2 linked regions of the Homo sapiens genome follow. The protein of the gene in region 1 interacts with the protein of each later gene in a pairwise test. Each region holds a gene or a part of one and is shown in the gene's direction. Other genes may lie near its edges.

What was found.
Region 2: the proteins of CALN1 (region 1) and SLPI interact in binary tests that used the Homo sapiens proteins (3 or more experiments, as listed by UniProt).

What each region holds. Positions count from the first base shown.
Region 1 is NC_000007.14:72,403,935-72,420,549, reverse strand, and holds the start of CALN1 (calcium-binding protein 8), read left to right. Parts: upstream 1-8,211; 5' UTR 8,212-8,492; intron 8,493-16,615. UniProt on the Homo sapiens protein: Negatively regulates Golgi-to-plasma membrane trafficking by interacting with PI4KB and inhibiting its activity. May play a role in the physiology of neurons and is potentially important in memory and learning.
Region 2 is NC_000020.11:45,248,181-45,264,399, reverse strand, and holds SLPI (antileukoproteinase precursor), read left to right. Parts: upstream 1-9,835; 5' UTR 9,836-9,856; coding exon 9,857-9,941; intron 9,942-10,666; coding exon 10,667-10,825; intron 10,826-11,248; coding exon 11,249-11,398; intron 11,399-11,980; coding exon 11,981-11,985; 3' UTR 11,986-12,161; downstream 12,162-16,219.

The sequences.
Region 1 (16,615 bases):
ATTTTTTAAAAAGGTGATTTCTCATGACCTGAAACAGGTGCCCAGGTGAATGCCAGCTCCTCTCCCTCTCGGTGTAGCCCTGCTTCCCTCCTTAAGGGGAGCCCTAGATTCAGATTTCACTCTGAAGTGAGTGAAGCCTCCCAGCCAGCATCTACTCAGCAAAATCTGCCCCTGTTTGGGGTTGCAAGAGGAAGTGTTGCCTGTGGGGTTTAGAGCCAGGTCATGTAGTTATTTCATGCTGGGCTCCAGCCAAGGCAGGATGGACCACTTTAGATCGTGCCTCAATCTTATGAGTCTGGCTACCTCTGTCCTTCTTTTCCCAAGTTTCTTTCTAGTCATGTCTTCATACAACCCAAGGGTGAATGTTAGGGTGGGAGTTAGGGTTAGGGTTAATGTGAGCATCTAACTTGCCCCTTCGTGGGCAGGAACTGAAGTGGCTCATTTCACTCAGCCTGCAGACTGTGGACAGCTAAGTGTTAACGGCTCCGTGAAGGGTCAGGGTGACAGTCTTCTGCACCTGTCCTTTTTGACACCCGAGTTCTTGTTCAGTGTCCAGGAAGAATCAGGTCACATGAACTGTGTGAAAGGTGATGAATGCAGAAGACTTTATTGAGCAGTGGAAGTGGCTCTTGGTGGAGAGGGAGCTGGAAAGGGGATGGTGTGGGGAGAAGGTGATCTTTTCCCTGAAGCTCAGCCATGTCTGGCTGGGCTCCCCTCCAAAACCACACATCTGAAGTTAGCTGCATGTACCTGTAGTCTCCAACGCTCAGTTTTTGCTTCTCTGCTCACTGCTCAGCCACTTGTATCCTTGCCGGTCAGCCACTTGTGTTGCTCTTTTCTCTTTTTATGAGCACAGGATAGGGGTATGGCAGGCCAATAAGGCAATCATTTGGGCAGAAAAATTGGGCCAGCTGTTTCCACTTAGGGCCGAGGCTCCAAGCTTGAGGGTGGGGTTTAGTCAGGAGCCCAGCCATTCTATATCAGGATGACTCTAAGGCCAACTGGGAGAAGTGGGGTTTCTGGGACACCCGTATTCATGCAGTCAAAGCCAAGAAAGGCAAATCAGTGCCTCCCAAACCCAGCCTTAGGGGATTACCTGAGCCAATCCAGACATGAATCCTGAGGAAAATACGGCAGCCAAATGCCCTGCCCCAAGATTCCATGGGTTATCAAAGAAGGAAGACCTGAGGAATCTTCCTTCCCAAAGAAGGACTAGGGAGTGACTGTGCCAGTGGATATGAGGTTCCTTTTGGGAATGATGAAAATGGTCTAAAATGGGTTGTGGTGATCACAATCCATTTTAGACCATTTGCACAATTATCATGTGCAACACGGAATTTTGGAGCAGTAGGGTGAGAACTGTGATGCTTTGAGCAGCGGCAGGGCGTCGTCAGCAGGGCATTCGTGTGTTGTCCAGCTCAACTTTGCACCCACTGGGATGGGCATCCATCTTCTTGGCTGCTTGGTGTTTCTGGGAATCTACTTCTAGGCTTTTCAATGGGTAGAGGTCCGCCAAACCAAAAAACAAAGGGATTACTTGGAGTCTTGCTTTGTCACCCAGGCTGGAGTGCAGTGGCATGATCATAGTTCACTGTAGCCTCAACCTCCTGGGCTCAAGCAATCCTCCCGGCACAGTGTCCCAAGTAGCTGGGATAACAGGCATGCATCACCATGCCTGGCTAATTTTTAAAAAGATTTTTTGGTAGAGACGGGGTCTCGCCATGTTGCTCAGGCTGGCCTCAAACTCCTGGCCTCAAGCAATCCTCCCACCTTGCCCTCTGAAGGGCTGGGGTTATAGGTGCAAGCCACATCACCCAGTGACATAAGAGCTTGAACTACAGGGAGACCCATCCAGATGGGGCTGAGCAAAAGACTAAGAATCTCTGTGGAAAGCTCTGGTAAACTCCAGGAGCCCTATGTGAGCCGGGGCGGGGAAGCTACAGAGGGCGATTGTCCAGAAGTGGTGAATATATGGCTGAGGTACTGGGGATACTGTGGTAAATCTGGGGACTACTGTCTTCCAGAGCCCTGGAGGGTGCAGTGCGACAGTCACCCTGGGCAGAGCCCCTTCCCAAACCCAAAGGAAAATAATTTGTTCTACCAAAAAGACACCTGCACTTGTATGTTCATTGCAGCATTATTCACAAGAGCAAAGACATGGAATCGACGTAGGTGCCCATCATTCGTGGATTGGATAAAGAAAATGTGGTCCATATACACCATGGAATACTACACAGTCATGAAAAAGAATGAGATCATGTCCTTTACAACAACATAGATGCAGCTGGAGGCCATTATCCTAAGCAGATTAATGCAGGAACAGAAAACCAAATACTGCATGTTCTCACTTGTAAGTGGGAAAGAAACATTGGGTACATGTGGACATCAAGATGGGAAGAACAGACACTGGGGGCTACTAGAGAGGGAAGAGGGGGAGGGGGGCAAAGGTTGAAACACTACCTATTGGGTACTATGCTTGCTACCTGGATGATGGGAATGTTTTTACCCTAAACCTCAGCATCACACGATATATCCATTTAACCAACCGGCACATGTACCTTCTGAATCTAAATTAAAGTTGGACATTTTAAAACCCTTAAAACAAACAAACAAAAAGAGGAACAGGGAAAAACAGCTCAGCAGAGGGAGGAGCTCCAGATGAAACTTAGAGACCCAGTGATTCCCTGCATGGGGCTCAAAACACAAGGTCTCTGTGATCATGTTTAAGGCCAGGGTGTCCCAGGGTAGCATGGCACCGATTACCTCAAACCCACTGATGAGGCTCCCACAACCATGACTAATGAACATGAAGAGCTAATGGACTCCTCTTCTTTCTCAAAACCTCTGCCAACTCTGCCGCCAAGAATTATAAGCATTTAGAAAATAATTATACATCTGGACAAATCAGTTTCAGTCTATTGGATTGAACATAATCATATTAAAATATAATGAATACATTCAAACACACAATGCATGATTAAATAGTCACTTAGGAACCAGTGCTGGTAAAGCATGCTGGCTGGTAACCAAGAACTATGTGGCAAGTGCCCACGGTAGCGGGGACAGAAGTAGAAAGCCACCCCAGGCTTGCAACTGATTTCTTTGTCACCTTTGGTTTAGGTTCTCATTTACTTCCTCCCACCCTGGCTCAGGCAAATCCACACAAACTGGTTGTGGTTCCTGCAACCTGATTTTGTTGGCTGGTGCTTAATCTTTGTGTCATTTGGGATGGAAAGGTGGAGTGGGGGAGGCAGGATGTTTTTGGCAGGCTGATGGCCAGAGACCGCAGGGGTCTGCCCAAGGTCTCTGCCAATCCCATTGCACGGGGCATCTCACTCATGTCCTCCCTCGGGAGGCGAGGGCACCAAACAGCAGTGGTGCTTCTCAAACGCTTGTTGTCTTATTATCCTTGGCCTCCAGATCACGGCTGGGACCGCCCTCCGCCTGTACTCACTGAGCATATCTCCAGGTTTCTGGGCCTGGATGAAGACTCAGGCTCTATGGGAATCCCGGGGAAGCTGAGCTTCCATCTGGCAGCTGACCTGGAGACCTGAAGCATGCCTTGGCAAAGCACACCTTTCCCCACTGACTTGCCCTGGACCAAAGACTTGGTCTCAGCTCTCTGTGGCCTCTTTGTGCCCTGCACTTCTCTGCCTCCTGGCCTAGCCCAGCCCAGCTCAGCCCAGCCCACCCCAGCTCAACCCTCGGCTGATAGATGCTGACATTAATGCAGGAGAGGTGGGTCCCCAAATCGGGATGAAGCCCGGGAAGGTTCTTTTTGTTATTTGTTTTTTTTTTTTTTTTTTTTTTTTTTTGAGACAGAGTCTCACTTTGCCGCCCAGGCTGGAGTGCAGTGACGCGATCTCGGCTCACTGCAACCTCCGCCTCCCAGGTTCAAGTGATTCTCTTGCCTCAGTCTCTTGAGTAGCTGGGATTACAGGCACACACCACCATGCTCAGCTAAGTTTTGAATTTTTAGTAGAGACAGGGTTTCACCATGTTGGCCAGGCTGGTCTTGAACACCTGACATTAGGTGGATCTACCTGTCTCAGCCTCGCAAAGCGCTGGGATTACAGCGTGAGCCACCGTGCCCAGCCGGGTTCCCGGCTTCACTCAGGAAACAATTTAAGGCTGAGCCAGTGGCAGAAGAAAACAGCTTTATTGAGGTAGCAGCATTACAGCTCTGTGACTACTCCTGCAGAGCAGGGGTACTCCATAGGCAGTGTGTGGAGAGCAGCAGCTCAGGGGCAGTGCTGCAGTCATATTTATACCCACTTCTAATTATATGCAAATTAAGGAGCAGGCTATTCAGAAATTGTTAGAAGAGGGGTGGTAACTTCTGGGTGTTGCCATGGCAATGGTAAACTGTCATGGCACTGGTGGGTGTGTCTCACGGAGAGGTGCTTCCAGGGCCTCTTCCCTATTTTAGCCAGTCTTCAGTCTGGTCTGGAGTCAAGTCCTGCCTCCCACCTCAACATCACAGGTGGAGACTGGAAAATGTCAAGGGTAGGGCGAAGGGAACGGTACAAGCATTGGTGATCAGCTTCAGAAGCAGACCCACAACCTTAAAAGAAATGGAGCCCAGGGCTGGGGCTGTTTGTTTTTGTCCTGCCTCTAGATGTGGGATCCTGGTCCCTGGGAACAGATCAGACTCAGGCACCTGGGTGGGCACTGGCCAAAGGAAGCCCTAGGTGAAGGAGCGTGGTGGTACCTGCAGGCGGTGTCACCGTCCAGTAGCGCAGTTCTATGCCCCCCGCGCCCCCCGTACCCTCACGGGCCTCTGCCCCACTGCCTGGGACCCTGCTGTCTTAGTCACCGCTCAGGCTTCCAGCATTTTCCCAGGAGGATCGACGAAACTGAGATTGTGAGTTGGTGGCTCACAGGCCTGGTTCAGCCCACAAACAGGTTTGTTGTTGTTTCTTCTTGTTTACTTGTGTGTTTGTTATTTCTTCTTGTGTTACTTGTGTGTTGGTTTTCTCCCAAAGTGTTTTGAAACTTAGAAGTTGTTGCCAGCATTTAAAAAATCAGCTGATTTATTAACAATCTGGATTTCCAGCTCCTCTTTAAATCATGACATCTGGCAATGCCGGGCCATACTCACTCATAGCAACAATGGATGGGTGATGAGTCGTGGCTACCGCCTTGCACAAAGGGAGCCACTTCCTCGTGGTCTTTGCCTCTTGGCATGACTGCTGGTCCCTGTAGGCATTTGAGCTGGCATGCCCCGTTTTATAAGAAGGAGAAAATACAGGTGCATCTGGAGTGGATGACACAATGGTATGAATTAGACCCAGGTGCTCCCACAGGGAGAAAGATCTAGGTACCTTGTAGTAGTCTGCTCAGGCTGCCATAACAAAATACCATAGACTAGCGGGTGGGGAGCTTAAACTATACCTTAACAGCTGTTATTTTCTCACAGCTATGGAGGCTGGAAGTCCAAGGTCAAAGTGCCAGCATGGTCAGGTTCTAGGGAGGACTCCTTTCCTGGCTTGCAGACAGCTGCCTTCTTGCTGTGTCCTCACATGGCAGAGATAGAGATCCCTCTCTTCCTCTTATAAAGCCACAGTCCAATTGGATTAGGGTTTCACCCTTAAAACCTCATTTAAAATGACCTCCCCAAACCCCTATCTTCAGATATAGTCACATTGGGGTTGAGGGCTTCAACGTAAGGATTTGGAGGAGGGACACAATTCACTCCATAGCATATGTGGAATTCAGGATATATATTTGGGGGCTGGGAAGGGAAATTAAATGACCAGTGGAGTCTTGGGCCATCCAAGCATGTCACAAAAATGGAAGGAAACCATTGCCATGAAATGGATGAACTTGGCAACAGAGAGGGGTACAGAGCTCATGTTCCCCCATCTACAGATACTGCTTCTCAGTCGTCCTGGGAGAAATACAGCTTATGGCAAATTCAGGACATCCTCCCTTCAAACATTTGCTTGAATTATCCAGACTGGGGGCCAACACTGGACTTCCAATCTCTGCTGTTCTGTAACGTCTCTGGGAAGTTCTGTGCTGCCATGCTAGTGTTAGGGTGGAGTGGGGAGTGAGTTCAGGGAGGCTGGTGTGAGGGTCTTGCCACCACCCATCCCAGGACCCCTGGTCTGGCATCAAGAAGGCACTGGCCTGCAAGAGAAGCTGTGTGACCCTGGGAAGCCACTCAGCCTCTCTGTCTCGCTCTACCCAATTGTGAACTAGGGGTTGATCAGGTCAGTTTCTTTTGTAGGTCACTCTTCATGTTGGTAGATAATTTTAAGCCCTGGTTAAGGACACTGCTCTGTAGTAGGTGCACAGAACGAAGGATTCGGCCCCAGGACTCAAGGAGGCCCATGGGCCTCTGGCTCCAGCATGGGTCTCTTGAGCTTCCCGCCAAACTCTAGGATCCTGGATCTTCCCACGGTCTGCCTCCAATGAGTGAATCCGTCTCATACCTCACTGCTCCTGCTTGGCGAGGGTGATGGGAAGATACGGTATTAGTGGGTAATTAAGTTATTAGCTGCCAAAGCTTAATTGCTCTCAGGAGTATTTTAATTGTAGCAGGGGACTCAAAAACAGAAAGCCTTGGAGACAGCAGACATCATGGAAACAGAAGGAAGGGGGAGTATATGTGAGGGTGCATGTATGGGAGTGCGGTGTGTACGTGTGTATGTATGTAAGAGTGTGTGTGTGCATGTGTATACGAGTGTGTGTGATGTGTGTGCATGTTTGTGTATGTGCCATGCATGTGAATGCATAAGTGGGAATGTTTGCGAGTGGTGCGTGTCTGTGTAGTGTGTTTGTTATGTGTATGTGTGTGCATATGTGCTGTGCGTGTGTGTATAAGTGTAAGTGTATATGTGTATGTGTAGTGTGAGTGTGAATGTATATGTGTATGAGTGTGTGCATAACTGTGAGTTTATATGCGTATGTGTAGTGAGAGTGTATATATGTATGTGTGCATGTGTTAGTGTGTATATGTATGAGTGTGTGTGTGGTGTGCATGAGTGCATGCATGTATGAGCTTGTGAGTGTGCGTGTTTATGAGTGTATCTGATGTGTGAGTTTGTGTCCTTATGTGAGCATGTGTGGTATGAGTATGCACGTGTGTCCATGTGTGGTATGTGAGTCTATGTGAGTGTACGTGTGTGTAAGAATGTGCATGTGTGGTGTGCATGTATGAGTATGTTCGTGGGTGTGTGTGGATGAGTGTATGTAAATGTATGTGTGGATGTGAGTGTATGTTAGTGTGTGTATGTATACGTGTGTGTGTACATGTGGTGTGTGTGTGCATGTGTGTGTGAATGTATATGTGTGTATGTGTGGTGTGTGTGAGTGTATATGTGTGTATGAGTGTGTGTGTGTGAGTGGGTGGGCACAAGTGTCAGTGTGTACATATGAGTGTATGTGTAAGCATGTAAGTGAGCATACGTGTAAGAGTGTATGTGTGCATATGTGTCTAACAGAACCTGCCTCTGTGATCTCTGCCAGGGCGTCCATCAGTGCAAACCCCCCGGGTGAGCCCAGGTCTGAAGGTGGCCACCAGCCACTGGCCTACTCCAGGTGGGCTTAGCGTGAGCCAGCACAGCCATCAGAGAACCTTCTCGGAGCTAGACCAGCTGCCCCAGGAGAAAGAGGGTAACCCTAAATATTATCCTACCAGGAAAGCCAGGCCTGGGGCTGTGGCCTCCATGGTCTGGGTGCTTCCTTTTGGAGGTGGGAGATGGATTCTCCAGGGAGAGCTGGGCCACCAGATATTTCTCTGTCCTGTGGCTTGACTGCTTCTAGAAACTTCCTGGGCTGAAAGCAAGGGACTTTGACAAGGGCTTGATTTGGAATGTGGGGCATTTTTATTGTTCCAGTTTGTTTTTCCCAAAGCAGGTTCCATGGGGGAAGGGTGAGGGGACAAGGGCTGGGGCTGCTCCTCCAGCAGTGGCCCCTGGGTGTGAGAGGTGAAGCCAGCTGGGCTTCTGGGTCAGTGGGGACTTGGAGAACTTTTCTGTCTAGCTAGAGGATTGTAAATGCACCAATCGGTGCTCTGTGTCTAGCTAGAGGATTGTAAATGCACCAGTCAGCATTCTGTAAAAATGGACCAATCAGCACTCTGTAAAATGGACCAATCAGCACTCTGTAAAATGGACCAATCAGCACTCTGTAAAATGGACCAATCAGCAGGACATGGGCAGGGCTGAATAAGAGAATAAAAGCTGGCTCCCCGAGCCCGCTGGGGAAGCTCGCTGGGGTGCTATCCGCTTGAGTTTGTGTTTTTTTCTTTCCTGCTTCTTAATAAAGCTTACTGCTTACTCTGGGTCCGCGCCACCTTTAAAGCTCACGGCCGCGGTCTGCGTCTTCGTTCTTGAAGTCAGCAAGACCGCAAGCCCACCGGGAGGAGCAGACGACTCCGGACGCGCCATCTTTAAGAGCTGTAACACTCACCGCGAGGTCCGTGGTTTTATTCTTAAAGTCGGCGAGACCAACAACCCAGCAGAAGGAATAAATTCCGCACACAGGTGGGCACAGAAACTAAAGAGCATGGTGGGCTCAGCTGCATGCAGTTCCCAGCTGGGCCAGGTTTGGGAGCCATCTGGGTACTTTCATAGTCTGGAGACAAGTTCCGGATTATGGTGGTGTTTTAATCTATGATTTTTTCTTTATCGGTTTATGATACCTCTCTAAAAGAGAGTTGCTTCATCAACTATTTGGTTATCCTGGAATATAATCTGTATGGAAAAAGCAGGACAATTGTTTGGTTCTTTTCTTATTACTTTAAAAGAGTAATTACTTTATTCCTTAGCAATTACATTCATGTCAATTTTCAGGATAATGAGTTGTACCATATTTGGTGATTGGCTGTGTCTTCCAGTTAGTTTCTCTGTCATTTGGCATCATTGAGAACTTATCCACTTTTAGGCCTGACAAGACTTTTCGTATTTCCTCCCATGGAGCTGATTACTTAGCCGGAAGTGGTATTTTGAGACTACAATTTGAGTGCTCATTGCCTGAGTTTTATTACCTTGACGTCTTTTCAGTGACACAACTGATACGTCCATATTTTTTTAAAGACAAAAATAAATTGAGTTCACAGTGATATTTTTATTCAAACTAGATTTCAGAGTTTTTACTTAACCTTAAAATTGTTATATTTACAGCTCTTTTCTCTAACATAGAAAATCTTGATTCCTAATGATGTTACATGAATCTCTTTTGTATGATTTCTTTGTGGTTCTTTTTGTCCTGAGACTTAGGTCTCACGTGGAAAGCTCAGTCAAAATATTATGTTCTAAAGTAACTTGAAAAAAACGGTTTTCTCTGTAGTTAAGCCATTAACTTGAAATACAGTTGTGTTTGCATGTTTCAGTTCATTTTCTATTTTAAGGAATTGCTTTGCTTTTTCCTTTTGATAGTTTTTTTCAAATCTGTAAAACCTTTATGTTTGCTCTTATAAATAGGCTCTGCTCATACATTATCTTCTGTTTCTACACATGTCCTGTTAAATTCTGTATGTTGGTCTTATTCTAATGCTTTACTAAATTCACCTATTATTTGTAATCGTTTTTTCATGAATTCTTTGGGATTTTCCATACATATAATCATATCACCTTAAAATAACTTTATTTCTTTTCCCATCTTATGCCTCTAATTGTCTAATCATGTTGGTTAATGCCTACAATACAGTGTTAATAGTAGCAGAGATAGTAAACATCCTTGTATTTTTTCTGATTTTAGCAATAAAGTTTCTAGTGCTTCTTGGAAAGTAAGAAGGTAGGGTGCTGGCTCGTGAGCTGATACGGAGGTGTGTGTATTTATGTTCAGGAAATATATATAGTTCCCTATTTTACTCTGATTTTCAATGTTAATTTAATTGTGAGCCGTTCATAGGGTCTTGGTTTTCATTTTGAAGAACCAGGGTTTAGGGTGTTTTGCTTATGCGAATTTAAGCCAGGACATGAAGGGACATTAGGGCTCCTGAGAAGTCTCACTTGCAGAAGAATTGAGCTGATTTGAAAAGCTCATTTCAGTTTTCAGATGTGGACTTAAAATTTTGGCTTTGCTTGTGTATATATTTTATTTCCGTGATATCTAATTGGTTTTGGGCAGAGATAGGGAGAAAACAACTTTGATTTTACATCATGTAGAAGGATTTCGCTTTTGCATCTTTCAAGGAATTCCATGGACATTTTCTACGTCCTAGATTGGCAGTTTTAGATTTCTTTTTTGTGCTTTTGAATACATCTTAGTAGTAAGATATTCAAAATGATGGCCAACAATCACCTTTGCAGAGTCAGTAACACAAGTGCAGTGATGAGACTTCATTGCTCATAAGCAGTTAAGTAGATTTGACAACCTCTCTTACATATTTAAGAGCTCCAGGCTCTCATGTTCCAGCAAATGCAGGGCTTAGCTTTGGGGCAGGCTGGAGCTCACACTCTGCCCTGTCGTCTTTTTTGTCAGCAACTCGTACCCCATTACACACCATATGGCATGACCCGCACAATGGAACATTTTGTCCAAAAGATATCTTCAAGAAAGAATTATGTTCAGTTATAACAAAAATAAATTCTTTTTGTGGGTTAAATGTGGTGCATCTTTGCAGGGTTTTAGAGGAAAGGACCAAGGGGAAAACCATTATCAAGCATTACAGGGAAAAAACTGATTATAATGTGGCCCTCAACAATTGTAAAATCTAGCAGAGACCACAAGATGCAAAAGAAAAGACTGTAACTTGATGCCCAACGTGGTTAAAAGGGAGGGAACGTTCCTTGGTGATTCTTTGAATTGGGTCTTCGAGTAACAGCCTGGGAACCACTGTTCCATGGGGTCCCAGAGGCTAAAAACCATTTAACCCATGCTTATGAATTATTTATGCCCATAAACAATGCAGGTTCATCCCTCTCCATTCCCAAACATTAGATTTTCAGCTCAATCTTGCTCCCAGTGATTGGAATTTTAGATACTTTGAAAGGGATCAAATCCATGAAAGACTTTGGTGTGCTGAGTCTGCTTGTAACCCATGCACCAGATTGGTTGCTGAAGGCCACAGACGCTGAAATAATGAGGTTGGCCAGTCCACTCAGACTATCCATATGCCTCCTTCCTCAGAGGCTGGCACAGAGATCCGTTTAAGATTATACTCTGCGCCAGCCTCTGAGGAAGGGAGGTATGTGGATACAGTCTGAGTGGACTGGCCAACCTCATCATTTCAGCCTCTGTGGCCTTCAGCAACCAATCTGGTGCATGGGTTACAAGCACAGAGGTCCATTTAAGAGTATGCTGGGCCAGGTGCAGTGGCTTCTGCCTGTAATCCCAGCATTTTGGGAGGCCGAGGCGGGTAGATCATGAGGTCAGGACTTGGAGACCAGCCTGGCCAAGATGGTGAAACACTGTCTCTACTAAAAATGCAAAAATTAGCCAGGAGCGGTGGCGGGCGCCTGTAATCCCAGCTACTGGGGAGGCTGAGTCAGGAGAATCTCTTGAATCCGGGAGGCGGAAGTTGCAGTAAGCTGAGATAGTGCCACTGCAGTCTAGTGTGGGCCACAGAGCAAGACTCTGTTCCACCGCTGCCCCCCTGCCCCAAAAAAAGTATACTTGGGGCCAGGTGTGGTGGCTCACACCTGCAATCCCAGCACTTTGGGAGGCTGAGGTGGGTAGATTACTTGAGCCCAAGAGTTTGAGACCAACCTGGGCAACATGGTGAAACTGCATCTCTACAAAAAATACAAAAATTAGCCAGGAGTGATGGTGCCCGCCTGTAGTCCCAGCTACTGAGGGGACTGGAGGTGGCAGGATCACTTGAGCCCGGGAGGTTGAGGCTGCAGGGAGCTATGATTGCGCCTCTGCACTCCAACCTGGGTGACAGAGTGCAACCCTGTCTCAAAAAAAAAAAAAAAAAAAGGAAAAGATAATAATTGGTGGTCATTTGTATGTCTTTTCATGACCACCATGCAATCCTTGCATGTAACAAAATTGCACTTGTATCCCATGAATTTATACAAAAAATTATCCATGATGACCAGGGCCTTGTTGGTTTTGTCACCAACATCACCAACATATTCCAGTTACGCTCTCTGACCTTCACGTCTAGAGAGTCTTTGTCTTTATTATCTCTGTGTGTGTGTTTAATTTTTTTCTGAGACCGAGTCTGTTGCCCAGGCTGGAGTGTAGTGGCGTGATCTCAGCTCACTGCAACCTCCACCTCCCGGGTTCAAGTGATTCTCTTTCATGCCTTACCCTCCTGAGTAGCTGGGACTACAAGCGTGAGCCACCACGCACTACTAATTTTTTTTTTTTTTTTTTTTTAATAGAGATGGGGTTTCACCATGTTGGCCAGGCTGGGCTCAAACTCCTGACCTTGGGTGATCCACCCCCCTTGGCCTCCCAAAGTGCTGGGATTACAGATGTGAGCCTCCATGCCAGGCCTACGGTTTGTTTTTAACGTCAATATGGAACCAAAGGGAACTGGCATTGATTAAATGTGTGTTCAATATATGTTTATTGAACACCAATTATTTCAAGGTTGCTCCTGCCTGCGCCTAAATGCCATACAGTGCATATTTGCATACCTAGTGCCACAGAAGGGGAGAATCAAAGTCTCCCTTCTTGGATACTCTCAGGAACAAGCTGATCCTCCAGACTGAAGGAGTAGGGACAATCTTCCCCGGTTCCGTGTGTTTGTGTCTGAGTTTCCAGCTTGACTCTCTGAGCTCCGTGAGGCTACATCTGTGGTGGATTCATTTCCACACATCCCACCTCCATCCGGCCCTGTGTCCAGTCCAGCGCCCATCTGAGCTGAGAAGCTCAGTCAGTATTAGTGCAAAAAGAAAAAATGGAGAATGATAGTGTATTAGTCTGTTACTGCACTGCTCTGAAGAAATCCCTGAGACTGGGTAATTTACAAAGAAAAGGGGTTTAATGGGCTCACGGTTCTGCAGGCTATACAGGAAGCATGGCTGGGGAGGCCTCAGGAAACTTACAATTATGGTGGAAGGCCAAGGGGAAACAGGCATGTCTTCACATGGCCAGAGCAGGAGGAGAAGAGAGGAGGGAAGCAGCAAAGTTGTTTGCACACACTTGCAACAACCAGATCTCATGAGAACTGTATCACAAGAACAGCATGAAAGTGGGAAAAATACACCCCCGTGATCCAGTCACCTGTTACCAGGCCCCACCTCCAACATTGGGGATTACAGTTTGACATGAGATTTGGGTGGGGACACAAATCCAAACCGTATCAGGTGGCTAGCATATGTAGCACCTGCTCTGTGCCTAACACTTTACAATAACTTTAAAAGGTAGGTGTTATTATCAGGTTCATTTTGCAGATCAGGAAAGTGAAGCCCAGAGAGGTTAAGTCACTTGCCCAAGGTCACACAGCCCCTAAGTGGCACAGCCAGGATTTGAACTGGATGGTCTAATTTGATTAGTGATGTTCTTAACAATATTACTTCACCATTCTCTGCATATTGTGGGTTGGTAAAAGTGATGCAGGTGATAGAGTACTCAAAGCGTAGACCCAGGGCTACATCACTTTTTGGGTGGATAAGAGTGCCTCCTACTGGTCTGAGCCCTGAAAGAGTGACTGGGCAGTGTTCCAGGGGCATTTTCAGTGCTAAAGGAAGTGGGTAGGTCACCTATTGGAATGAAAAGCTGACAAGGGGCTGGCGCGGTGGCTCATGTCTGTAATCCCAGCACTTTGGGAGGCTGAGGCAGGCAGATCACTTGAGGTCAGAAGTTCAAGACCAGCCTGGCCAAGATGGTGAAACCCGTCTCTACTAAAAATACAAAAATTAGCCAGGCCTGGTGGTGTGCACCTGTAATCCCAGTTATTTGGGAGGCTGAGGCAGGAGAATGGCTTGAACCTGGGAGGCAGAGCCTGCAGTGAGCAGGGATCACGCTACTGCACTCCAGCCTGGGTGACAGAACAAGACTCCGTCTTAAAAAAGAAAAAAAAAAAAGCTGACAAGGACCCTCATGTGGGTCTAGGAATTAGCCCAGAGATCTAACTTCAAGACTGGGGCTCAAAAATCCAGCTCCTTCCGGCTGACCTTTCAGATGACGATTGTAAAGGCAATTAGCAAATGGACTTTAGAGGACAAATTCTGGAAATTAATCACCCTTAGGAATCGCATCAGGAAATGAGATAACCGGTTAATTTGGGGACAAGGAAGCTCATTGGGAAATGCACCTTGGGTCCCAAGATGCATAAGGCTGTGAGGACTCAGGAGGTGCCTGTGTCTTGGAGAAGCTTCCAGTTAAATTGGGGGAAGATGGAGGTCTGTCTTATGTGCAGATGCCAACATGGGGTGCTTCATTAGTTGGCCGACGGTGGTTAGTCCGGCTTGTGCAGGGCTGCTTGGCTTCCCTCGTTACGCCAGCAGGCAGCTGTGACTGGGAGAGGGGAATTCTGGAGAGACGGCTTCTGGCTATGGGAGCCAGCTCCATTTTGGGTCCCCTGGCTTTGTGTTTCTCTGGCACATCGCGAGTGCCGCAGTGAGGGCACCAGAGCCAGCTGAGCAGCAGGAGCGATTGTTCCTTACGGGGAGCTGCCACCTTCAGTGCCGTGCGCCTGTTGAGCTGTGGGCAGGTTCCAGGTCATTAAGTGTATTGGGCTCAGAAGCCTGGCGACCATCAGCTCCCGACAGTTCTCATCTGGGTGCCTTGCTCTGATGTCCACACTGCCTGGGGGGACCTGACAAGAGAAGGGACTCAACATATTCAGAAGTTTTTGCATATGGGGAGCTAATTACTGCTTTTTGAAATATGCATTTACCACCAATCACAACTTCCATGGTGCTGGGGACTGCCATGGCAACTAAAAGCATATCTGAAAATAAAATGTCATTTTTTTTTTTTGCGTTTCTACTGTAATGACACACTTGCTTCTCCTGTTTAACTTAACGAGCTAACTAGAGAAGTCTCCAAGAGTTTCGGCATGTGCCGCGTGTGTGGGGAAGTGGGCGTTGTAGTGTGTGTGAATAGATGAGTCATAGGCATGTGTAAGAGAGCGGCGTACGGGTGTGTGCTGCTGGGGACAGAGTGTGCAGCTGTGTGAAGTTGCGTGGGAGCCATGTGGGTGTGGGGGTGAGTGCTCCTGGGCATATGTCTCAGGAAACAGGCGTGTGAAGACATGCCTGTTTGCCCTTTGCCTTCCACCATAATTGTTAAGTTTCCTGAGACCTCCCAAGCTATGCTAGATGGGTCTCAGATCATCCCTAGGCTATGAGTGTTACAAGGCTGGTCTGTGAGCACGCATCTGAAGACCAGTGCTGTTGTGTGTGTGTGCATGTATGTGTTTGAGGCCAAGTACTGTTGCATGGGTGCGTTGCACATGTGCTGTTTGGTGAGATGTGACTTCTTGCTTTGAGACACTTACTCTCTTTAAGGTGTCTTTGAGATCCCAACCCTTGGGAAGTGCCGGCCCAATCGCAGGACATAACACCCTTCCTGTCGTATCTCATCATTCCTGTGGGATGGAGGGCTTAACTCCATCCCACAACCATTGGGGAACCAGAGACCTCGGAGGTTGGGGCACCCAGACACCATCTGGTCCAGCTCTGAGCTAAGACCATGGGGGTTTCTGGTTCAGATGGAAATTACAAAGCATCTAGTTGGTTTATGTGTCTGTCCGTCATTCATTCACACCAGTAGCTGATGAGTTACTCACAGGGCTTTGGGCTGAGCCTCTTTCATTTGAGCCGATTGAGGCTGACTTTCAGTGGGTACTGTGCGTGCAGATTTACAACAACCTGCAACAATAATGTCCACCATCCACATACAGCTCTTCAAGCCTTCTTCCTGCTTTCTACAGTCATTTTTTGAGCCTGATCTTCTAAGAGCTGACTTTGATAGGAGACCACTTCCCAGGCATGAGCATGCACCTCTCACCAGAATCGAGAGAGTAGAAAGAGGGCAGAGGGACTCTTCCCAGGATACAATGTTCAGGGGCCAAGTAGTGAGAAATGGAGACTCATCTGTGTGTTTCTGCGAGAAGCCATTGCCTGCTGCAATGTGTAGACGTTCTTATGGGTACAACTCTCTCAGATGGGGCCCTGATCCATGGTGGCCGGGGCTTTGTTGGTTTCATCACCAACGTCTTCCATTTACACTCTCTGAACTTCACATCTCAAGAGAGTCTTTGTTTGTCTTTATTATTGTTTGTTTTTACCTTCAATGAAACCAAAGAGAACTGACATTGATTAACTGTGTGTTCAATACATATTTATTGAGCACCAATTATTTTAAGGTTGTCCCTGCCTGGGCCTAAATGCCACACAGTGTGCATCTGAGCTCTTCCCTGCCTGGGGTTTTTCTCAACACAATGTTGGGAGGAGGGGATGGAGATTGTGGACAAATGACAGTAGAAGTAGGCAGAGACGAGGGGTGCCTTAACCCAACCAAGGGAGAGGGCCAGGTCAAGGACAACTTTTCAGAAGAGGTGACACCTGAGCTGAGTTGTAAGGGACAAGTAGGTGGTAACGATACCAGAGAGAGGTAGAAAGAGGATGTTGCCACTTGGTGACATCAAGTGGACCTAGAGATTCCATATGCATGGGTTGCAGGTCTGCCCTGGAGCTGGTAATGGGATGCCATCTTGGATGCTGTATGCTTTAAGGAAGTTAGGAGGGTATTGCCCTGG
Region 2 (16,219 bases), on another chromosome or scaffold:
GGTCTTCAATCCGACACTGTCACAAATCATTTCTTGGGAGGGGAGGTTTCGAATGCTCCTGCCACCACTGAATTTTCTTGGCTTCTACTTCTGGTTCAGACATTTGCTGCTGTTGCCCCAGATCCCAGCTCTCCCCATCCATGAGTTCTCTAACTCTTCTTTGTACTGTTTTTTTCTGAGGGCAACCACCTTTCTCAGTCTCTCCAGAATTGCTAAGAAGAATCCAACCTGCACAAATGGCAAAATTCGAGCCAAGGGAATTCAAGCCTTCTGGTAAAAGAAGGAGGTGGACACCCAGCCTCTCCCTTGAAGTGCATTGCTGCTCTTAGACCAACAGGGATGACTGGACATGCTGCCCCTCCCATGTTTTTATTCCTTTCTCAGCTTCTCCTTGCCCTGTCTCCACAAGTGATTTTTTTTCTTTTAAATTTTTATTTTTTTCTTTTATTTTTCTTTAGAGATGGGGTCTCGCTATTTTGCCCAGGCTGGTCTTGAAATACTGGGCTCAAACGATCCTCCCACCTTGGCCTCCCAAAGTGCTAGGATTACAGACACCAGAATAGAGATATAATTGCCTCCATTTTCTATGGGAAAATCTTAAGGCACACTCTAGGTTTGCAAATCATGCTAATTCCTTTCCAGCATGCACCAATTTATAACTTGTATGTCTTATTTTGTAGGGGATGACCTTGGTTAGCTGTCTAATTGAGGAAGACCTTAAACATAAATGCACATAGAGGCATTGCTGATTGATAATTTGATTTATGTTCATGGGAGGAAAAACAACATCAAACAAGAGAGCTATGGTTAGGTGCTTATTGTTTATTGATGCTAAGTCTCTTTCTATGTCTTTTAAAACAAGCAATGAGGCTGAATTTTCAGAGAATGCAGATACCTAACAATTGGCCTAAGGGTTGTCCTGCCTAATTTGGTAAAAAAGTGGCAGACAACTGTACATTATTTAGATTTACCAGATGAACATATAAAAAAAACCAAGTAGAAATACTGGAAATAAATGATTATTGAAATAAAAATTCATTACTTACTAGATAGAACTAGCATTCGACCCAGCAATCTCATTACTGGATATATACCCAAACGAATAGAAATTGTTCTACCATGAAGACACATGCGTGCATATATTCATTGCAGCAGTATTCAAAATAGCAAAGACATGGAATTAATCTAGATGCCCATCAATGGTGGACTGGATAAAGAAACTGTGATACATAAACACCATGGAATACTATGCAGGCATAAGAAAGAATGAAATAATGTCCTTTGTAGCAACATGGATGGAGCCGGAGGCCATTATCCTAAGTGAATTAAAGCAGCAACAGAAAAACCAAAAACAGAGTATCACATCATCTCACTTATAAGTGTGAGCTAAACACTGAATACACGTGGACACAAAGAAGAGAACAATAGGCATTGGGGCTTACTTGAGAGTGAAGGGTTCGAGGAGGGTTAGGACTGAAAGAGTACCTATTGGGTATTACCTGGGTGACAAAGTTATCTGTACATCAAATATTAACATGCAATTTACCCATGTTAACAAGCTGCACATGTACCCTTGAACCTAAAATAAAAGTTGGAAAAACATTGGATAAAGTAGAGTTTAGACTGGATGCAGCTGAAAGAAAACTTGGTGAATTTTTAGCCAGTACTGAGAAATTCACCCAGAGCCCAGCACAGAGAGATGAAGAGAAAAATATAAGAGAAAGGCAAAACAACGATAATAAAAATAGAAGGTCTAGTAAATATCCGGTGGAAGTTCCAGAAAGAGACTGGAGAGAATGGCACAGAAGTAATATTCAAAGAGATAAAGAAAGGACTTTTTCTTTTAGGATTAAATTAAGACATGCATCTTCAGACTAAAAGTGCATATTTGGAGTAAAGCAGAATAAATAAAAGGCAAACATGACTCGGCGAGATTTCTGACAATAGTTACTAGTTCATGCTTTTATATGAAGCAAATGGACCAGGAGCCAACTAAACATGAAAACCAAGCCTCATAATGGCCACTGATTGTTCATGTCGATCCCCACATCCTGCTGCACCTATATAAAGTGAATTCTTGAAAAGGTGCAGATGCCCTTCCTTCCCCAACAAAAGGGCATCCTCTGCAATACTCCTCCAAGATGTAGCCATGGAAGGTGACAGGCAAAGGAGAGGCTCCCAGACAGCAGAACTGGATTCTTCAGATTTATTGAGTAAGGAAATCACTCCAACATTAGGTAGGAAGTCCTCACATCCCTGTCTTACAGGATGTACAATCCGTATTACGGGCCAGTGACAATTTGTATATATCTTCCTATATTTCCCTTTTGCAAATAGGACTTTTTATTGCAGTCATTCCGCCCTCAATCTACCATTCTATATTGGGTGCATTTGAAGTGGTTAAATTTACTTAAGCTTATTAAACTTAATCTGTGAAGACTATAAATTTAACTGACAGAACTGCTTTCACCCACATTGCAGAACTGGAGATGAATATAGTACCCAGAGAGACATTTTGTTGTCTTTCTTTGGGAGAGAGGTTGAGTGCATTTTATGTAGATGTTGGTTTAGAAAGTATTTGAAAAAATTTAGTTATGTAGATTTCAGTAACCAAAAGGGGTATACTTTAGAGAACACTCACTGCTATTTTTACCACTGAGCATCCTTTCACCCTTCTGCTGGTAGCTATATCCTAATTTACCCCAGGAGAATCATTCCCTCTCCCACTCTGAAAATTCCACTGGATTTGGGGATGAGTACACATGGTGATGAGTATTGTGGCCTTGGCTTAAACCAATCGGTACATCCCAGTTCCCTGGTCCCAATCATTGGTTTAAAGATTTAATTCTAGCCACTCCTAGTTAGTTGAGTTGCCCAGAAAAAGCCCTTACTAGACATGAATTTGGGAAGATGGGAGGAGATGCCACAGCCATATTATAAATGCTAAGAGGGAGCCTGACTAAGAATGAAGCCAACATGAAGAGAAGTGCCGTGGAGAGAATCTTGTGGGAGCTATAGTTTGAGCCCTTGCTCAAATTGCACCTGAAAATAGCACCTATTCTCCTTGGTTTATTCAGCACTCTCACTTCTTGCATCTTTAAGATCATTTTTTAACTTTCCGCCGAAGGATTATCTGGACAGTGCTACTATCCCAGGCATCTCCAACTCTGGGTTTAGGACTAAAGAAGTCTTGGAGGGACCATAATGAAGCAGTATGTGGCTGAATTCTGAAGACTTGGGTTTGAATCTTACTGTACCTCTGACTTGCTGTGTCATCTTGGGCAAGTGGGCTTACTCTCTGAGGTTCCATTTCCTTTTCTTTAAAATGGGATATAAAAGTGCTTGGTCCACTGTGAAGTTCGGGGTCATGCATGGTGTCTATTCCTAGGCTTTTTATTCAGGAAAGTTGGCTCTCTGGGTCCTGAGAGTCCTCTATAAGGCAAAAACCCAGCTAGAATCTAAGACTTGGGGCCTCTAAAGAGCATCTGTTCCAATGCACTGATCTTACAAATAGGGAAACTGAGGCCCAGAGAAAGGAAGGTTCTACATCAAATTGGACAGAGCTGGGATTCCAGCCCAGTGTCCTGAGTCCAGTATCATCGTCATGCCTCTCTAGCTGACCACAGGGTCCCAGAGGCCAGAAGTGATGCTATCAAGTGTGAGTCTTTCATGGTCTTTCTGGCACTCTGCTCTGTTTGGGCCACAGAGGTGTCCTCATAGTGGTGCTCTCCACTGACCCCAGGCTTAGACACCAAACTCTCCCATAGTAATGATCAACCAGGCATCGTCTGCCATGTCCATCTAAGACCCTACCATCTCCTGATCTGCAACAGGAACGTTTCTCTGAGACTCACTTTTTCTCATCTGTAAACTGACTTGACATTAGTATCTACCAAGTTTTGTGTGACGCTTAAATGTAACAAAACATGCTAAACCAAAGGAGATGGATTCTAGTGATTTGGGGACATCTTTTCCCAAGCTGCTTATAGCTCTGTTCCACAGTTTAATAATCCAGTTTTTCTATTCCCGGTTTTCTTCCATGGGTAGTCATGATGGCAGTTTCTTAATGCCGAGCACTGTTTTTCTTTTTGTTTTACCAGGTCCCTAAAGCATTTCCTCATGACATACCACAGACTTTGTTTCTTTAACCTTAGGTTAACTGGATCCCTTCCTCTAGGGAGACAGACATGCAGTTTTTGAAGGAATAAAGTGCAGAGCCCTGATCTGTACACCAACCATCTCTTGCATGGTAATAAGTATGAAGACACCTGAGATCCACCGTTGTTGGTTAATTTCTCCTGCCAATTCTTTGATGGTGGATGTTTTTCACCCTTGCCCAGATTCTGCTTTACTGCCCTTCACCCATTCACTTGTGGGCCTAAAAGGACAGTTCATATTTCCAGATTTTATTAGGACTATGATGAGCAGTAGGGGAGGAAGTACAAACATTGCAGAATTCAAACTTTCTTGGGTGGGAAAATGATAAGGAGTGGCTAAGCCATCTGTTTCTCTGGAAGGTCTAGGGAGATCCAGTTGCCATGTCCACCACCTGTGGATGACACTTCCAGAGGTGATTTAAATGACCCCACCTCCCTTGCAGTCATCTCTTTCTCATCTACTCTTCCTGTCTCAGCTCGGGGTTTTTTTTTCCCCAATACTCTCCCCACCACACCTACTACATCTCCATACTCCCTGGCTCTGTGTCTCCATTCCCATTTGGTCATTATTGACGTTTTATGTATTTTGTTTAAGACAATATTTTAAGCTAAGTTATAAAGGCAACTATGAAAGTCAGAAAATTGGCTGAGGCTCTTGGGGAGAGCTGATGGCCTCAGAGGAAGCAGGATGAAGCTGTTTCTTAGAGTCACAGTTACCGTCTTGGGACAGGTAGAGGAACTGAGGCCCAGGGAAAGGTAGTTGCTGCCTTATTCACACAGGAATGAGCTGTGAAAACCTGGTTGTCTGCCAGATTCTGAAAGAGTTTTTTGTTCTGTGTTGTTTTTTGGTTTTGAGACTTGGAAACATAGTGAATTTTAGGTAAGAACACAGTGACTTTTAGTTAAGGGTGAAGCTGGCATCTGCTATCAGAATGGGGCGACCCGAAACACATTCTTCCTTAGACCTGAGCAACGGGGCTCCTTCCCTGCACCTCACACTTCAGGTCGCTCTGTGCCTTGGGGCGTCTTCCTCAAAATTGTCTATGTTCCCCTGGAGTGCCTGAAGCCAGCCAGGATCAATGGTGCCATGGGGCAGAGAATCCCAGCTTGGACTGAGAACTGCATGGGTTCTAGTCCAAGGGGGTGCTTCTCACTCTGTACTCCTTCCCCCATTGCTAGAATCTAGGGCAGTCATCCTACCACCTTGGATGGCTCCTGGCAGGAGCCTGTGGCTGCTCCTGTCTCTTCCTCAGGGCTTTCCAGGCCATCTCTGTGCAACTCCAAAGGGGCTTTTCAGTTGATGTCTTTTTTTTTTTCCTCTGATTGACCTATGCTCTCTCGGGTCAGTGTTGAGCCATAATGGATTAGGCAGAGACATTTCTTGTGCAAATGAGATGCTCCTCTCACTTCAACCCTGAGCCCCTCCAGGGCTGGCTACATAATTTACAAGACTCAATGCAAAGTGAAAATGTGGAGCTGCTTGTTCAAAAGCAGGAAAAAAAGTGTTAACGGTACTAAAATTAATTTTTTAACTTTCTTTGGCAGTTTCTCTCTAGATCTGCCATGGTGTTAAAAAAATTATTTACTGTTGCTCCTCCACAAGTATGTGGATACTCACAGGGAGAGTGCAGACTCCCAGAGGTGCGCAGGGTCCCTGTCCCGCTACTTGGTGTGTGCAGGACCCACCAGCTGCCAGGGTCCCCCTGTCACCAGCACCCTGGTAGTCAGGGACAAGCGGCCACACTAACAACATTTGAGACAGTAATTGGAAGCCAGTATTCAGAGAAGGCATAAAGGATGATGCAGCCTCACAAGTAATGATGTAACCAACTTTAATAAATGGCATTGGGAAGTGCAGAGGCAAGCAGGTTCCATCAGCCAGGGTTTTCCAGAGAAACAGAACCAATAGTTGATTATCTGGCTATCTATCTATCTATCTATCTATCTATCTATCTATATCTATCTATCTATCTATATCTATCTGTCAGTTAAGATCTGTCTATCTGTCTGTCTACCTACCTACCAATAGGCCCAATCAGGTCTATTTTGTCAAGAAATAAGACCATGTTTTGTCAAACATTTAATGGGACAGAGCCAGATGGGTCCAGACCCAAGGACTAAGCTATTTAGTTAAAGACTGACAGCTCCCTGTGCGCTTAATGTGTGCAGGGACACGCCGGTAATAAAAACAATGTGTAATGTACTGAGGGGACCAGACAGTTTGCTGAGTGCTTTCCAAATACTCCTCACAACAACTGTACGACTCCAGAGGCAGCAACACTCTCATTTTTCAGTGGAGGTAGCTGAAGTTCAAAGAGGTTCAGTGATTTGCTTCCAACCTGTAAGTCTGACTTTGAAGTTCAGGTTCTTAACAACCATGTGGTGTCGACTCCGTGGGCGTGCTCTTTTCTGTAGCCCTAGGCCTAGTGCAATACCTGACATGTGGTAAGAAATGTTAAACAACTTTTGTGTGAATGGTTTGTATAAATGAATGAAGGAATCTATAGGATTTAGGTAGAAGGCAATAAAGGGTGTGTGAAATAGATTTTTTTTTTTGAGACAGAGTGTCACTCTTGTAGCCCAGTGGCATGACCTCAGCTAACTGCAACTCTGCCTCCCAGGTTGAAGTGATTCTCCTGCTTCAGCCTCCTGAGTATTACAGGCACACACCACCATGCCCGGCTGATTTTTGTATTTTTAGTAGAGATGGGATTTCACCATGTTGGCCAGGCTGGTCTCAAACTCCTGACCTCAAGTGATCCACCCACCTCAGTCTCCCAAAGTTCTGGGATCACAGGAGTGAGCCACCACTCCCAGCCTTGAGATAGATTGAATGAGTCAGTCTCAGGTTAAGATTTGGTTAGGAGTGGAAGTGTCCTCCACCAGACAGGTTCTGGGGATCAGCATGTGAGTAACCTGTTTTAGAAAAGCTCAATCTTGTGTGTGTCGTTAATCCGCTATGCAGCTTTGGGCCTGGATCTTCTTCTAAGGGATTCAGTCTCTTTTATGCAAGCTGTGGGTTTGGTCTAGGGGTTAGCATTTTCTGTAAAGGACCAGACGATAAGTATTTTAGGCTGTGCAGTAAATATTTTAGGTCCCTGTTGCCATTGTAGTGGAAAGATAGCCTTAGACAATACATAAATTAATGGATGTGTGGCTATGTGCCAATAAAACTTTATGAAAACAGGTAACTAGGTGGATTTGGTCCAAGGACTGTAGTTTGCTGATCTAGAAAACCCTTGAAGTCCTCTTTTTAGTCTTAACATTCTATGATGTAAACATTTAGAACCAATTATGTCAAAGATAATAATGATTATATACTATTATCTTCTTATGACACCCATGGAAGACATTGCTAATTGGGCACAGGGCTCTTTTCTGATGAGAAAGGAGCTGGCTCTAATCAGTCAATCACAGATTGAGCAATCAGTCAATCACAGATTTAAAAAAAACTTAAGCTGTAGCATTTTCCTTTTAATTTTTTTTTTTTTTGAGACGGAGTCTCAGTTTGTTGCCTAGGCTAGAATGCAATGGTACAATCTCAGCTCACTGCAACCTCTACCTCCAGGGTTCAAGTGATTCTCCTGCCTCAGCCTCCTGAGTAGCTGGGATTACAGGTGTGTGCCACACTGCCTGGCTAATTTTTGTATTTTTAGTGGAGATAGGGTTTCACCATGTTGGCCAGGCTGCTCTTGAACTCCTGACCTCAAGTGATCCGCCCACCTTGGTTTCCCAAAGTGCTAGGATTACAGGCATAAGCCACCGTGCCCAGCCCCTTTTCATTCTTTAAGAAATAAATATTTAGAAAACTCCAGATAATTTCTTGAGTGTGGCACTGAGGAAAATAGGAACAAACAGAGAGAGAGAGAGAGAGAGAGAACAGGAACTCTGTGAGAGAAATCAAATTATCCCCTGGGTGGTGGAAGTGAGAACAAAAATCTTGACCTGAGAGTGTCATTACCCATTGGTGGAAATCATAGCCTCCATTTCTCTCTTACCTACCCTACTAAGTACTCCAACTAAGAGTGAATGCACCTGGCTCATAGTAGTTACCTTGTGCATATTAATTTTCTTCCTTTTCTTTTTCCACCAAAATTTGACTGATGATTGATTATGTCCAAGTCTTCTGATCCACCAAAATTCAAACCATGGAGTGACTTTTGTATAAAGGGATCTGCTGCCAGTTGCCTGTTTGGTTGTGGAATACTTAAATACTTCATGTGGGGCCATCGCTACTTGATAATGAGTGGGTCTTTCATGTCTGTGGAAAGTTCCACAAACCTTCACCTTAGGAATGAATGGGAGAATTCCAAGCATGAAGATAATGAGTCAAGAGCTTGGAGTTTGTAGCTAGATGAGCTTTGGTTGAATTTTATTTTATTTTATTTTTTTAAGACAGGGTATCGCTCTGTCCCCCAAGCTGGAATGCAGTGGCACAATCATGGCTCACTGCAGCCTCAAACTCCTGGGCTAAAGCGATCCTCCTGGCTCAGCCTCCCAAGTAGCTGGGACTACAGGCATACGTACGTCATCATGCCTGGCTAATTTTTTACATTTTTTTGTAGAGATGGGGTCTCAATATGTGGCCAGGGCTGGTCTCAAACTCCTACTCTCAAGGAATCCATACACCTCAGCCTCCTGGGCAGCTGAGACAGCAAGTGTGCGACCCTACACTCAGCTATGGGCTGAATTTTAGAGATAATGGTCGCTCTCTTTATAATTAGAAGCAACCTATGCAGACTGGGTAGCAAATAGAATGGGTTTAATTTTTTGCTGTCATGTGAGATCTGTAAGGGATTTTGGGGAATTTTAGGAAGCAATCCTCTAAGATCTCAAATTATCTCACAGCTAAATGTAGATTACAGTGACTGATGAGCTGCTTTCCCCCTTTATCTCAGATTCATTTCAATTCTCTTTAGTGGGAAGGGATACTATTCATTTGTTCTTTTCATTCAGAGTCCCTTCATGCCCTTAATTTCATAACCCTCTGAGAAGGGCTGACTTGTTAGTATCATTTCATTTCACAGCTGAGACAACTGAGCTCCAGAGAGATTTGTGGAGAGCGGAGCTCTTCTTCAGCTTTCATTTGTGAGTGCTTTTCCTGTGTCAGGCACAGAACAGGCACTGGGGATATAACGGTGTAAATATTTCAGGGAACTAAGTATCAGTTGGTTGAACGAGCTGAACTTTTGAGAAAGAAACTGCATTGAGTAATCAGCAGAGTTTCACAATGCCTGAGAGTCCAGTAATGTGAGAATCAGAATTAGCAATGTGAGAATAGAATGTATTGCACAAAGTCTCAGCAGGGAGTCTGTGTCTGGTTTTAGTTCCAGGTCCGGGTAGCACCTTTGCAATTGACCACTTCTTCCCTCTCTCCACCTATAAGGCTAATGGCCTGGGATCTTGTGATGTTTAGGGCTCAGATGGACACTGAGATGGCCTCTTTAATCAACCAACTTCCCAGGCCAATCTCTTCCCTTTCTTTTCTGATAGTTGCTGTGTTGGCCTCATAGCCTTACCTGGCATAGGAAAGATAAACAATCTCCTTGGTGTCAGGATTTCTGGTCTCTGGCTACGTTTCCTGCTTATGCAATAGTAGCTGGGAGAGGCCGAAAGAATTCTGGTGGGGCCACACCCACTGGTGAAAGAATAAATAGTGAGGTTTGGCATTGGCCATCAGAGTCACTCCTGCCTTCACCATGAAGTCCAGCGGCCTCTTCCCCTTCCTGGTGCTGCTTGCCCTGGGAACTCTGGCACCTTGGGCTGTGGAAGGCTCTGGAAAGTGTAAGTTGGAGTCACTCTGGTCTAATCTGGGCTGCAGGGTCAGAGGTGGGGTCTCCTTGTGGTGTGGGTGTGTCCCCTTCTGTAGGCTCTGATCCCTCAGCTTAGTTTCGGGAGACCTCCCTGAGGGTGGAATACATGTCTGGCTGAGCTCCAAGGTTTGTGTGACAGTTTGAGCTTCTGGAAATGCTTCCTCTATGCAGCCATGCTGTCAGCCCAGGTCCCACTCTCTCTCTCTCTCTCTCTCTCTCTCTCTCTCTCTCATACTCCGCCTTCTTCTTCACCTGTCTGCGACTCTCAAATCATTAGTTTCTGACTCTGCTTCCTTGTGTCTTTGCTTCTGCTATTTTGTCTCTGTGCTTCTGCCTTGGGCTTTAGCTCTCAACTTCTCTCACACTGGTTCTATTTATCTTTGTTTACCTCTCTCCATCTCCATCACTCCCAGCCTTCCTCTCTGCCTTTGTGTAGCCTTGTTTTGCTCTTGGGTGGGAGGTCTTGACTAGAAGCCTGCTGCCCTTTTCTTGGGTGTGAAACGTCCCCTGTCCATTTGTCTAATTTAATCAAGCCCATCAATACACCTGGAGATCAGGCAGGCATGACCCTTTGGGCTTTGTGGACAGCTACTGAGGTAAGGGTCTCTCCCCCTCAAAAGTGGTGCTTTGTTCAGGAGGCATGATGGGTCCTCAGTACCCAGCCTCCTCCTGACCTCTTGACTTTCTCTTCAAAAGCCTTCAAAGCTGGAGTCTGTCCTCCTAAGAAATCTGCCCAGTGCCTTAGATACAAGAAACCTGAGTGCCAGAGTGACTGGCAGTGTCCAGGGAAGAAGAGATGTTGTCCTGACACTTGTGGCATCAAATGCCTGGATCCTGTTGACACCCCAAACCCAAGTAAGCAGGTCGGGGAACTGGGTAGAGAGGAGTGAGCCTGGGGACACAGCATTAGAGGGATGGAACTGGGTGATGGGTCCTGCCAGGCCTCCTTGTCAATCCGTCAGTGAGTCACACTGCCCTAAGCAGGAAGGTAGCCAGCAGCTGGTGAAGCAGCGGGCATTTAGATAGCCAGGTAGTTGGAAGCCTCCCACCTAGTCAGCACTGGGTGGCTGGCCACCTGCATCAATGGGGGGCCTGAAGTTCTAGGAGAGCCAGGTGCTATGTTTGGGGGCCGCCTTAGGGAGAAGGTGGTGGTGATAGAGGTGGGGAGGGGATGATCCCCCCTGCTGAAGCTGGAGCAGGGGCTCACTCTAAAAAGTGGGGATGGGAGGGGTTGTATAAAGTACAAGGCCTCTGACCGGTAGCCTCACTCTCACCCAGCAAGGAGGAAGCCTGGGAAGTGCCCAGTGACTTATGGCCAATGTTTGATGCTTAACCCCCCCAATTTCTGTGAGATGGATGGCCAGTGCAAGCGTGACTTGAAGTGTTGCATGGGCATGTGTGGGAAATCCTGCGTTTCCCCTGTGAAAGGTAAGCAGGGGATGAGGGCACACTGAGCTCCCTCCAGCCCTCTCAGCCTCAACCCTCTGGAGGCCCAGGCATATGGGCAGGGGGACTCCTGAACCCTACTCCAAGCACAGCCTCTGTCTGACTCCCTTGTCCTTCAAGAGAACTGTTCTCCAGGTCTCAGGGCCAGGATTTCCATAGGATCGCCTGTGGCTTTGATTCTATTCTAGTGTCTCTGGGTGGGGGTCCTGGGCAAGTGTCTTTCTGAGTCTCAGTTTCTTTATCGGTAAAATGTACATAATGAGATTGAAAGTGCTCTGCAAAGCACTATGTGCACTAAGAATTTATTATTCAGGTTGTTTCCATCATGTTTTCTGAGGTGAAATCACAAAGGATCAGTGGAGTTTGAGGATTATCTAGTTCAATGCTTTGAGTTTAGAGTTTTACGGTGAAAATGAGACTTGTCTCCTGACACTAAGTCTCTCTCAACTATAGCGCTATCTTGCTATTTTCTCTATCTCAGAAGGATCCTTGGGCAGGAGGAAGGATGTGGATATGATTTGGCTGGTTTCTATGCTGAAGCTCTTATCTGATTTTCTCTCACAGCTTGATTCCTGCCATATGGAGGAGGCTCTGGAGTCCTGCTCTGTGTGGTCCAGGTCCTTTCCACCCTGAGACTTGGCTCCACCACTGATATCCTCCTTTGGGGAAAGGCTTGGCACACAGCAGGCTTTCAAGAAGTGCCAGTTGATCAATGAATAAATAAACGAGCCTATTTCTCTTTGCACATCCTGCTTCTGTGATTCGTTGGGGGTATGAGTGGGGTGGGAAGCTGTGAGGGAAGATCTAGATATGAGGCCTCCTTCCTATGAATACGTAGTGGGAGGAAGAGGCTTAGGGACTGGGGGAACTTGAATTTATATCATGAGTGTGAAAGTGCTGACTCTGTGATTTGGGACAAGTGATTTTATCTCCTAAATTTCAATGGGATTAGGGATGTACAATAACATGAAGAATCAGAAACCTCAATTTTACTGCCTCTGGCAGGATTGTCAACTGCAGGTGAAAAACTTTCCTGAGACGAGTTTATGCATAAGAGATCCTGCCAACAGTTAAGCTATTTTAATCCAGGGGGTTTTCATCTAAAGCCATACAGAACTGTTGGGGCAGATTCCTGTGTTCACCTCTGTATGTGTTACGATATATATATTGGTTTTCACACTTGATATGTTGTAGGTCTGTCTGTTGTCTAATCCAACCAACACTCTCTGGACACTCAGAAAAATTAAGATTATCTGCAACTCACAGCAAATGGAGTCCTCAAAAAGACTAACCATGTTACGTCAGTGCCCACTCTCGATTATTTTGAAAGACTTGGAATGCCCCAAACCTCACTGGACCATTCTGCTACATACTTTTCTCACCTCCAGCAAGGGTTATTCCAGACTGAGGAACCTAGGCTCGGGCAAATACGCTACTAGGAGTGTGCCCCAAGTAGCACCTTGCAGGGGGAGGAGACCTAGCGTTGAAATGAGATAAACTCCTGGGTTACATACAGAACACATGCTGAAAAAGTGACAGTACTATTTTTTTTCTACTCTTCTTCTCCAATTTTTGGATAATGATAAACTTTTATAATCTTCCTTAGGTCAGGTTTTCTGGAAAACAGTCCCAGAGGCAAATGTTTGTGAACAGGGGGTTTGCTGGGGAGTGTCCTGGGGAGTGACACCTGTGACAGGGAAAAGAAAGCAGGGCTGACAGGCAAAAAAAGCAAAAATAGACAAGTGGGACTACCTCAAACTAAAAAGCTTGCAAAGCTAAAGACACAGCCACCACTACCAGTCTCTGCATCTTGATGGTAGTGGTCCCCTGGGCCCAGCTGCTTTCTCTTTATCTCTTGGTCTTGTGTCTTTTACAATCTCTTGTCTCTGCACACAGGGAGAACACCCACTAAGCCCTGTAGGGCTGTATAGAAATGCTACTGATTTTTGTATGTTGATGCTGTATCCTGCATATTTACTGAATTCATTGATTGGTTCTAAGAGTTTATTTGCAGAGTCTAAAGGTTCTTCTGTAGATATAATTATGTTATCTGCAAAGAGGGATAATTAGACTTCTTTTCCAATTTGAAAGGCTTTTATTTCTTTCTCTTTCCTAATTGCTCTATGACTTCTAATATTAAGTTGAATAAGAGCAGTGAGAGTTGGCATGCTTTTCTTGTTCCAGTTCAGTATGATGTTAGCTGTGGGTTTGTCTATATGGCCTTTATTGGGTTGAGATACTTTTCTTCTATACCTACTTTATTGAGAGTCCTTATCATGAAGGGATATTGAATTTTACCAAATGATTTTTCTGCATCTATTGAGATAATCATATGGACTTTTTGTCCTTCATTCTGTTGATGTGATGTATCACATTTATTTAAAACATTCATAAATGATTTATATATGTTGAAACACATTCTTCATCCCTGGAATAAATCCTACTTGATTATAGTGTATTATCTTTTTAATGTCTTGTTGGGTTCAGTTTGCTAGTATTTTATTGAGGATTTTTGTATCTATGTTCATAAGGAATATTGGCCTGTAGTTTTTTGGTGTGTGTGTGCATGTGTGTGTCCACGTGCCCTTATTTAGTTTTGGTATCAGGGTAATGTTGGACTCATAGAATGAGTTTGGGAGAATTTTCTCCTTTCTCCTCCTTAATTTTTTGGAATAGTTTAAAGAAGAACTGATGTTAACTCTTCTTTAAAAGTTTGGTAGAACTCAGCAGTGAAGTCTTCCATTCCTGGGATTTTGTTGTTGTTGTTAGGAAGCTTTTTATTACTGATTCAGTCTCATTACTCATTATTGAACTGCTCATGGTTTCTAAATTTTTTTCTGGTTCAATCTTTATAGGTTATACATTTCTAAGAATTTATCAGTTTCCTCTAGGTTTTCCAATTTGTTAGCTTATAGTTGCTCATAATAGTATCTAAGAATCCTTTGTATTTCTGTGTCACCAGTGGTAATGTCTGCTTTTTCATTTCTGATTTTATTTGAGTCTTCTCTCTTTTTTTCCCTAGGTGGTCTAGTTTATGGTTTGCCAGTTTTGTGTATCTTTTCAGAAATCCAACTTTTTGTTTTGTTGATCTTTTGTAATTTTTAGTCTCTCTCTTGTGTATTTCTGCTCTGATCTTTATTATTTCTTTCTTTCTACTAATTTTGGGTTTGGCTTGTTTGTGCTTTTCCAGTTCCTTGAGATGCATCATTAGGTTGTTTATTTGAAACCTTTCTAGTTTTTTAATGTAGACATTTATTGCTATAAACTCGCCTCTTAATACTGCTTTTGCTGGGTCTCATAGGTTTTGGTATGTTGTGTTTATATTTTTGATTATTTCAAGGAATTTTGAAATTGTATTCTTAATTTCTTTCTTCACCCATTATCATTCAGGTGCATGTTGTTTAATTTCCATGTATTTGTATACTTTTAAATGTTCCTATTGTTATTGCTTTCTAGTTTTATTCCATTATGGTCAGATAAAATACTTGGTATGATTTTGATTTGTTAAAATTCTTGAGACTTGTTTTGTACCCTATGGCTAACTTTTGACATTGTTACTTGTGCTGATGGAATACGTATTCTGCAGTTATTTGGTGAAATGTGCTGTAAATGTCTGTTAGGTCTGCTTAGTCTATGATGCAGTTTATATCTGATATTTCTTTGTTGATTTTCTGTTAAAATAATCTTTCCAATGCTGACAGTAGGGTGTTGAAGTCCCTAACTATTATTGTATTGGGGTCTATATATTCCTTAATATCTAATAATATTTACTTTATATATCTGGACGCTCCACTGTTGAGTGCATACATATTTACAATTGTTATATTCTTTTACTAAATTAGTCCCTTTATAATTATATAATGCTATTCCTTGTCTCTTTTTTCCAGTTTCTAATTTGAAGTCTGTTTTGTCTGATATAAATATAGCTACTCCTGCTTGCTTTTGATTTGTTTTCATGGAATATTTTTCCTTCTCTTTACTTTCACCCTATGTATGTCTTTACAGGTGAGGTTAGTTTTCACTATATAGTTGGGTCTTGTTTTTTAATCCTTTTAGCCAGTCTATATTTTTAAAATGGGGAATTTAATCTGTTTATATTCAGGGTTATTACTGACAGGTGAGTACTTACTCCTATCATTTGATTGATTGTTTCCTGGTTGTTTTTGTATATCCTTTGCTCTTTACTTCCCTTCTTATTGTTTATTTTTGTGGTTGGGTGGTTTTCTGTAATAATAAGGTTTGATTCCTTTCTCTTTCTTCCTTGTGTTTTGGTTCTATCAGTGAGTTTTATAGTTTCAAATGCTTTCATGATGGTGTCAATTCATGGTGCACCATGGGACTGAAATTTAAGTTTTATAATGAATGCTTTTTTCCTTAATTCCTGCTTTTATGTCTTCATGACTGTGTAAAAACTTCATTAGTTGATGGATTCAAAAGACTAACTTGAAGTCATTTTGGAATGTGAATCTGGGCCAGATAAACCTTCATGTCCTCTCTACACTATTCTAAAAATGGATGTTCCTCCTGCTTGCTTGGTAGCTAAAAACATATCTGACTTCAGCAATAGTAAGAAGTAGATTTATTAATGCACACAGAAGAATTGGGACCTGATGTGGGAGGCAGAGAGATGATGAGGGAAAGCTCTCTGGAGTAGCTGCTCTATTTACCAACACCGACCTTTCTTTCTAGCACAAACTTGGGGCTACCTCCACACGTTGAGTGTTTTCCCTGTGTAAATCTGCTGTTTTCTTCTAACTCTGAATTGGCATGTCCTCACTGAGTTTCAGTCCAAATTTACAAAAA